3 separate regions of the Homo sapiens genome follow, and all the other regions are linked to region 3. The links come from fine-mapping of genetic effects on gene expression. Tissue or cell type: whole blood. Region 3 holds a variant in brackets; each other region holds the start of a gene. Each region is shown on its reference strand, or each on the opposite one.

Region 1 (2,760 bases), not on the chromosome of region 3:
CTATAATTTTCAGGCGGATTCACATTTTCAAAAAGAGAAGAGAATACCCTAGTTTTTCAGCTACTGATGAGTTGGCTATATAATTATCTAGAATCCGTACTTTTGCAAGAATGTATTTGCAAAAACAAAACAAATCTTAAGATTAAATATAAGATATGAAAGCACAGTCATGGGCCTTCAGCTCTAAGAGATTTCAGATTTCATGGTAAATTAACTAAACAATAAATTCAACTCCAAAAAACAACTTTCAGGTTGGTTTAAAAATAAAAATCTCCCTTGTTTTCTGAAATGTATTTTAAACACTAAACTTTGTATAAATGGTTTTTCTAAACCTAATTTTATTCCACCCTTGGCCCTTTCAGAGTGCAAAAAGCTGAAAATATTTTCAGGTATGTTGCCACTTTACTCAGGTGAAATAAAAAGCATGATTAGAATTTCCTTATCCCTTTAAACACATAAACCAAACGTTATCGTATTTGCAGATTTAACAAACACCTCCACAAATCTTTGCTATCAAAGGTAGTTTAGAAGGAAGAAGGAGATGGCAATTCAGTTAACATGGTTCCATTTGTTTTCTTTTATAAGCCAAAGAAGGGAGACTACATCTAGCAGGAGAATGAGGCTCCCACCCACCGCACCTGGAAAAGTAAGAGGGATCCACCCAGGAACAGCAGGGCTGAAACCGATACGGGCCGTTCAAACTCTCTGGGGGAAAAACAATACCATTTACACTGCAAAGCTCCCTGCAACTTTCCACTTCCACAAATCCAATGATAAAAGAAAAAAAAAGTTTTAAACATATGAAGAACCATCGGTATAACTGGGTTCCGACACGGACAAATTTCTTTCCCAACCCACATGCAACATGCCAAAAAACCAACTTTTGATTTGGGCTCTGAAAACAGAAATATGTTAGCTTAATCCAGAAAAATAAATAAATAAAATCAAAGAACACACCAAAATGTAAATTTTCAAACCTGCTCTTACCCCTCTGGATCTATTCAGCTTCCTGTATTAAAGAGACCTAGAAGTTTGTTTCTAGGTCTTGTATATTTTACCTTTTTAAATATAATAAAATACCAAAATCTCCCCCGCCAAAGTACTGAAAGTAGAAAAGAAAAATAATTGCTTAAAAGTTACTCATCAGCATAACAGACTCTCCCGTTTTTTAATTCCCTCCGGTTACCGTAAGACAAAAATTCGACTTGCTTATCCTCCTTTTCCCGTCAGTACATACATTTTCTTCAAAAGCCACACACCTCAAATGTGGAGTTCTAAAAATCAGTCCTTTAAGAAAGAAACCCAAGGCTTCGCCAAGGTGCTGAGAAAGACAAATCCAGCAGGGCAGTTGATTTTTCGCCACCTCTTCCTCCTTTCGGGATCTTTCCTGCTCTTCTTTCTCTCTCTCTCCCTCTCTCTTTTTTTTCCCCCTCAGATCCAACACCTAAAATGGAAGTTGCACCCAGCCAAAGGCAAGGGAGCCTGGGTGGTGACAAACTGATCTGGCAGCCCTACCCCCTTCGCTTTCCTAAGTGATGTCAGCCCCTGTGAGCTTCCAATAGGAACCAGGCATAAATCAGGGAGCTGACCTTATCCAATAGGAAACTTTATTATAGAAAATTAAAAAAAAGAGAGGAGAGAAAGACAGGGGGAAGTTTATACATATATATATTTATATTTATATATTTATATTTAAAGTGGAGAGACTGTACAATCTCTGAGGAATTACTGCAGAGCTGAGGGGGGCGGAAGAGGCAAGGGAGACAAGGAACAAGGGCTTTTTAGAATGGTACGCCTAAGTCTCAGTTCTCTTTGATGATGAGTTCTTGCTCCCTCTTCTGTACTATCCCAGTGGGGAAATAGAAAAGAGCTGATTTTACTTGCCTGCTGCTGTTTGGTTTGTTGCTTCCTACCCCAAAGCATTTCCCTAAAGGAAGACGGGAAAGAAAGGAGAGAGAAATCCTAAAAACAGGACTACTATATGTTGACTGGGATGGTAGGGGATATCTGAGGTAAACTCAGTTTCACTGTTTTGGATTAATTGCATTAGAGCTATTTTTTTTTTTTTTTTTTGAGATGGAGTTTCGAGCCCAGGCTGGAGTACAATGGTGCGATCTCAGCTCACCGCAACATCCGCCTCCCAGGTTCAAGCGATTCTCCTGCCTCAGCCTCCCGAGTAGCTGGGATTACAGGCATGTGCCACCATGCCCAGCTAATTTTGTATTTTTAGTAGAGACGGGGTTTCTCTATGTTGGTCAGGCTGGTCTCGAACTCCTGACCTCAGGTGATCCACCCGCCTCGGCCTCCCAAAGTGCTGGGATTACAGGCGTGAGCCACCACGCCCCATCTAGAGCTATTTTTTTTTTTAATGCCTAGACTTGTTAACAGTTTTAATCTCCATACTTTGAATTAGAAGGAAGCAGAATCCACTGGGCTGTTAAAGAAAATCACTGTCTTCCCAATTTGTCCCCAAATCAAAATAATGTGGGTTTGTTGGAAAGAGGAAATGAAATCCAATAAACAAGCAATATATTTAGAGGGAATAACAGCATAGGTAAAGAAAGTAAATCTCATGTCAAGAACATTTTATGCCGGGCGCGGTGGCTCACGCCTGTAATCCCAGCACTTTGGGAGGCCAAGGTGGGCGGATCACCTGAGGTCAGGAGTTCGAGACCAGCCTGATCAACATGGAGAAACCCTGTCTCTACTAAAAATACAAAATTAGCTGGGCGTGGTGGTGCATGCCTGTAATCCCAGCTA
Region 2 (2,709 bases), not on the chromosome of region 3:
CTGGTGGTTTTTGTGAAGAGCACAGGTGGGGACTCTGAGCTCCACCCAGGTACTGACTGCCTCTGGGGGCCCAGGGCCCAAAGTGCTGGAGGACAGCTAGAGCCCAGCAAGGCCTCCCAAGGCAGGGAGAGGAGACAGCCGGCCATGTCTGGGGGTGTCCGTCCCACCCCTCAGGTCTGGCGTGTGCTCCATGGGGGAATGCAGGAACACAATGGGCCCTGGAGGGAGGGCTCTGCCGCCGACCCTGGGAGAACCCCAGGAAGCCTGCGTGCTCAGCTGGGGCCACGGGTCAGGGCAGCAGGCTCAGGTGGGCCTCGAAGCTGGTACTGGGGCCTCCGGCAGGGCGGGACGGGGCTGCGGCTCACCATGGAATAGCCGTACACGTGAATCTTCTTGTCCTGACTCTGGTGGGAGATGCGCCCGCCGCCCAGACACTCACAGTCGCAGCCTTGCTTCTGCATGTCGCCCGACACTTTGTCGTAGATGTCCGCTGGGATGGGAGGGCGGCCTCAGGACGTGCCCTGGCCGCCCTTGGAGGCCGCGGGAGGAACTCCCAGCCGAAGGGGTCTGAAATCCCAGCTCTGAACAGCCCCTTCCCCAGGAGAGACGAAGCCCCTTGAGGCTGGGACAGGGATGAATGAGCGAAGGAGGGTGGAACCGGGGAGGGCGCGGGAACTGGGAGACTGCTGGGGAGGGTGTCAGGCCGTGTCACGCCCTTCCCGCCCAGGACCTCAGCCTGGGTCAAACCTAGCAGGGGCAGGACTCGGAGCAGAGCGCAGTCCGCTACGGCCCGCAGCCCCGCCCCCGCCCCGCCAGCCCCGCCCCTGCCTCGTCAGCCCCGTCTCCGTCCCGCCAGCCCCGCCCCCGCCTCGCCAGGCGTGCCCCTGGCATGCCCGCAGGTCCCGCCCTCACCATGGTACTCAGCCCACTTGTAGCCGCGCACGATCTCCTTGCTCTCTGCAGCCGGAGCCCCGGAGCGGGGAGCCGAGTGGACTCGGATCAGCACATACTTGAAGACGCCGTCGGAGTCGATGTCCACATCAGGAATGAGAGCGAGGTCCGCCACCGCCATGTTCCTCCTCCCGGAGTCCCCTCCTCCCACCCGACCCGGGGGCCGCTTGTACTGCGGGAGGCGGGCTCTGCGAGAGCGACGACCAATCCCGTCGGGGAATGCTTCCCAAGGCCCAGCGCCTCAGCCAATTGTACCGCCGACCGAGGCACGTGCTGACCAATCGCAATCCAGTTCCTTGCCGCCTTGCGGCTCCGCCAGCCCCGCTTAAAGGAAACGTGGAATCGGGAATGGGTGGTGATGAAATCCAGCCAACGGAGAAGTTCCTCTCCAGCGGGGTCCGGTGGCACCCTTGGAACGGGGCAGTTAGGCGGCCCGCGAGGCTGGGGCAACGAGGGAGGCCTGAGGGACTTGCCAGCCCTGACCTCCTGTCCCGCACGTAGTCCGAAGACCACCCTCCCCGTGGCCCCCACCGCCCAAAGGCCTCCCTCTCTCCCCCTCCCACCGCCCGAAGGCCTCCCCCCTCCCCGCTCTCCACCGCCCGAAGGCCTCGCTCTCCACCCCCTCCACCGCCCGAAGGACTCCCTCTCTTCCCCGTCCACCGCCCGAAGGCCTCTCCCTTTCTCCTCTCCACCGACCGAAGGCTTCCGTCCCCAACCCCGCTACCGGTACAAGGAGGCAACGGCAGCCGCTACATTCAAGTTCTATTTTACTTGGTTCGAAAGCTCTTGCCCCCTGGAAATTATTCCGGTCCAGGGGCGTTCCCGGCCGGCCCTCAGGGGTGGGGCCGAATGCAGAGGCCCTGGGGTAGGGGGCGCGGGGCGCGGCGGCGGGTGGGCAAGCGGGACGCCTGGCCGGTGCAGACGCGCGGGGACGAGATGGGCGTGCCGGGTGCGAAAGCAGGAGCGGAGGCGGGGGTGCCCAATTTCTCTCACTTGGTGCCCCCTCCCCTGGCTCCGAAGTAGGGCTGGGGACTCCAGGAGGGCCCTTGCGTTTGGCCTCCACCCCTCTCCCGCATACCCCACCCTCCAGAGAGCTCTGGGCGCGGACCAGGGTGCACTTGGGGGACAGGTGGAGGCCGGGCCGCCGGGCTTGCGCCTCCACGCCCGCAGTACGGCGTGCGGCCAGAGCGGGTGTGCGGGGACCTCTCGGGACAGGTCAAGCCCCCTCGGGTGGGCTTCCACGCTTACCAACTAGCTCTCTCCCTCACCTGCTCGCACCACGCTTTGCCCTCCAGGCTCCCACCTGGGAACGCCCCGTCCCTTGGTCCTTCCTCTCCTAGCCAGGTGTCAGCTCTGGCCAGGCCCAGGTGCTCTGCTTCCCCTGTTCAGGTCCCCTGCCCCTTCGGCTGGGAGACTTGCATATCGGCCTGAAGACCTCCCTGCGGTTTTTCCCAGCTCCTGCAGGGCCCAGACTGCAGCGGCTGGAGGCGAAGGGACGGCAGGGCGCGTGGCGTGGTTAGTGTGCTGGCTCCGACCAGCGGGAACGCACTGCGCACCGTCCGCCCTGCCCACCGCCTCGGCGGGACGCGCTCGCGCACACGGACGCACAGAGGTCGACCAGGGTGTTCTCCAGCGAGGAGGCAACACAGCCGCGGGAGGCGGGGCGGGGCGTGTTTAAAGTGACAGACTGGGCTTTGGTTACGTCGGGCTTCTGGACGAGGGGAAACCGGAGTCGGGGAGGCTCCAGCGAGAGCCCCG
Region 3 (2,760 bases):
AACTCACAATGTGACATAAACAGAAACATTGTTAACTGATGATGAGTGTTAAATAAAAATGTTAAAGACATATAGATACAGACATCTCTATATACAGACGGGGGGATGACAGAAACAAGTAAATAAACATGGTGTAGTAGTTCATGGAAATTATGAAACAGGTACTATTTTGAAGACTATTTAAAGGCATGATATGTTAAATTAAAAAAAGCAAAATATTATAGTATTGGAGATATCCACGAAAAAACAGAAAGAAAAATAAAAGGGAAAACAGTGCTCACAGTGCTGTAATCCCAGCACTTTGGGAGGCCGAGACAGGAGACTGTTTGAGGCCAGAGCAACAAAGGAAGACCCCATCTCTACTGGAAAAAAAAAAGAAGGGAAAGAAGAAGAAAAAAACAGATACAGAACTTATTCACAGAAAAAAAGACTGGAAAGAAGTACACCAAAATGTTAATAATGGCTTTTCTTTGGATGGTATATGAGTTTGGATAACAATTTATTCCATTTTTCTTTTGTATTTTTTAAACAAACTATATACAATGGAAATGATTTACTTGTATAGTCAGACAGTAAAAACAAATGTTAACTTTTTAAAAATCACCTGTTCCTAATGGCAAACAGAAAGTCTATTCTGTGAGGCTTCCAAAGCAGCAACAGCCAATGGACCTTACCTTTGGGATCCACTTCCCTCCTAGGAAGTTACCACAGGTAGGGCACTTAGGTGGCTTGTGCCTGGTGACATATGTAAAGGAGCACCCTGGGCTGGTGCATGTCCCATGGCCCCGGCGGGTATATGTAGTGGTCTGTAAATAAAGAGCACATCAGAATCAATAGAACAACCTCTCTCAGACTGATGACCACTATAATCACAGCAACACCAGGAGGTCACAAGCTTGTGGAAAGATAACCAATTCATAATCATATCATAAAAGGTCAGTGTTGGAAAGGTCCTACAATACAACAAATTCACTCTTTAGAAATGGAGAAACTAAGTTCAAATGGGGAAAGACAATTGCCCAACATTACAGTTAGGTACCAGAAGAATGAAGAAAGTGATAGTTGCTATGCATTGAGCTAGGCACCACACAATGCTAAACACTTTACCAATATTTCATTTAATACTCTCAGCAATCGTATTAAGTACGTATTATTACTACTGAGGTTTAAATGCTTTGCCTCAAATCATCAATCAAGGGCAGAGCTAGACCTAGAACCCATATTTCTCTATTCTTGGCCCAACATTCCTTCTATGCATCCAGCTGCACCCTCTGGCTCTAAATACTTCAAAGAATTTGCTTCATCTTCATTCTTCAGACAACCAAGGACCTGGGATTCAGAATAAAAATAGATCCATGGTCACTGAAAAAATAAGGGCAGTTCAGGACTATAAGCCAGGCCCTATCCTTTGATACTCAACAGAATGTAGTTATTTGCATATTAATATATATAGCCACTGGCTCTTATCATCTCCACTGATCTCCCTTTGAGCAAAAT[G/A]TATTACTATGGGTTATAATATTTCAGCTACAAATAAAAACGACTCATTCATTAGTCATGCTCCGCTTCTAGATTAAGGCTGGAAAAAAACCCATTTCTCTGTCATATTTGTTCTGTCACATATGAATGTTTACTCAGCTATTAATCCCAGCTTCCCTAGCCCAGCCAAAACGCAAAAAGCTTCCTTGGGGAAACACCAAACTACCATTAGCTACCTCTGCAAGGAAGCCTAAGGAAAAGGCTTCAATTATGGCTTCCAATTATGACAGTGGTATTAAGTCAAGGATGAGCGTGAAGTGGTATGGCACCAAAAAGAGGAAGACCAGGCTTTGGGTTCCAATTTTGCCACTAATACACTGAGTGACCTGGTGGTAAGGAACCTTAACTCTTGGGCCCTGAGTTTCTTCCTCTGTAAAATCGCCTGTTCTTCCTATTTTATAGGCGTGTCTTGCTGAGAAAGTGAGATAAGAAATGAGAAAACATTCACTTAGATTCTACATGCTTGTGAGAGACTATTAATAGTGGAATATAAAACATCTCTGATCCTTTCTCAGGTTATGGCCAATGTATAATTCTCATTCTGAACACCTCAAGAAAGCAGAGTAAAAATTTAAGATAGGTTAGTTTCATAAGTAAATTACCATGGACTTGGAAATTCTTAACATTGTTAAGTAGGCTAGAGAAATGACTTTAGGAAAAAAAGTGCTAATGTTCAAGGATGACGTTTCAGTCCTAAGTATTAATCATAAAACACTTTTCTAGAAGTGCTTGGCTGACATTTATTAGAGCATGAAAGAACAGTAATTTCCAGGAGAATAAAGACTCAGGAGAAATAACCAGTTTCTCCATGAGTCAAAGCTGCAGGCTGTTCCTATTTTAAAATATTGCAGCTTTATTATCTACAACATATTGTTTATCTCAGTAGAGATCTCTGAAGATAAACTTATAAGTTAAAAATATGTACTTTAGCCCTAAAGAAACTACTAAAATAACCAAAACAAAGTCAATAGCTAATAAGCCAATAAAAGAAAGCAGATCCATAAAAAATACTTATATCAGAAGAAGGCAGAACAAAATTGATGAGACAAATAATAATAGATCTAAATGTAACCATATCAATAATCACATTAAATATAAATGGCTTAAACCACCTCTTTTAAAGACAGAGACTGTCAGAGGGTCTTGCTTTTATATTGAAACTATATGCTATCTACACAAAGCAGAACAAAACAAAAACACTTTATGTAGATATAAATTAGTTAA

What was found. PIP is the estimated chance that this variant, and not a neighbour inherited with it, causes the effect. A credible set is the group of variants that fine-mapping cannot tell apart.
Region 1: it holds the start of CTNND1, and the variant in region 3 is the best candidate, but not a certain one, in a credible set for the expression of CTNND1 in whole blood (TOPMed, PIP 0.85).
Region 2: PHPT1 starts here. The variant in region 3 is the best candidate, but not a certain one, in a credible set for the expression of PHPT1 in whole blood (TOPMed, PIP 0.64).

The regions. Positions count from the first base shown.
Region 1 is chr11:57,760,546-57,763,305 of GRCh38, reverse strand. It overlaps CTNND1 (catenin delta 1), which reads right to left and starts at 1,504. Exons shown (of 21, transcript NM_001085458.2): 1 at 1,187-1,504. The region is part of intron 2 of TMX2-CTNND1 (TMX2-CTNND1 readthrough (NMD candidate)); the gene reads right to left.
Region 2 is chr9:136,847,794-136,850,502 of GRCh38, reverse strand. It overlaps PHPT1 (phosphohistidine phosphatase 1), which reads right to left and starts at 1,094. Exons shown (of 3, transcript NM_014172.6): 1 at 913-1,094; 2 at 366-490. The coding sequence starts at 1,072. It overlaps AJM1 (apical junction component 1 homolog), which reads right to left. Exons shown (of 3, transcript NM_001080482.5): 3 at 1,702-2,709. RefSeq lists silencers at 773-852, 1,243-1,302, 1,483-1,562, 1,643-1,702, 1,923-2,152 and 1 more and an enhancer at 843-1,122.
Region 3 is chr5:150,016,612-150,019,371 of GRCh38, reverse strand. It overlaps HMGXB3 (HMG-box containing 3), which reads right to left. Exons shown (of 20, transcript NM_014983.3): 6 at 675-806. Among named protein-coding and RNA genes, the nearest start is that of HMGXB3, 17 kb to the right of the region's middle. The variant G/A (reference allele first, on the strand shown) is at 1,498.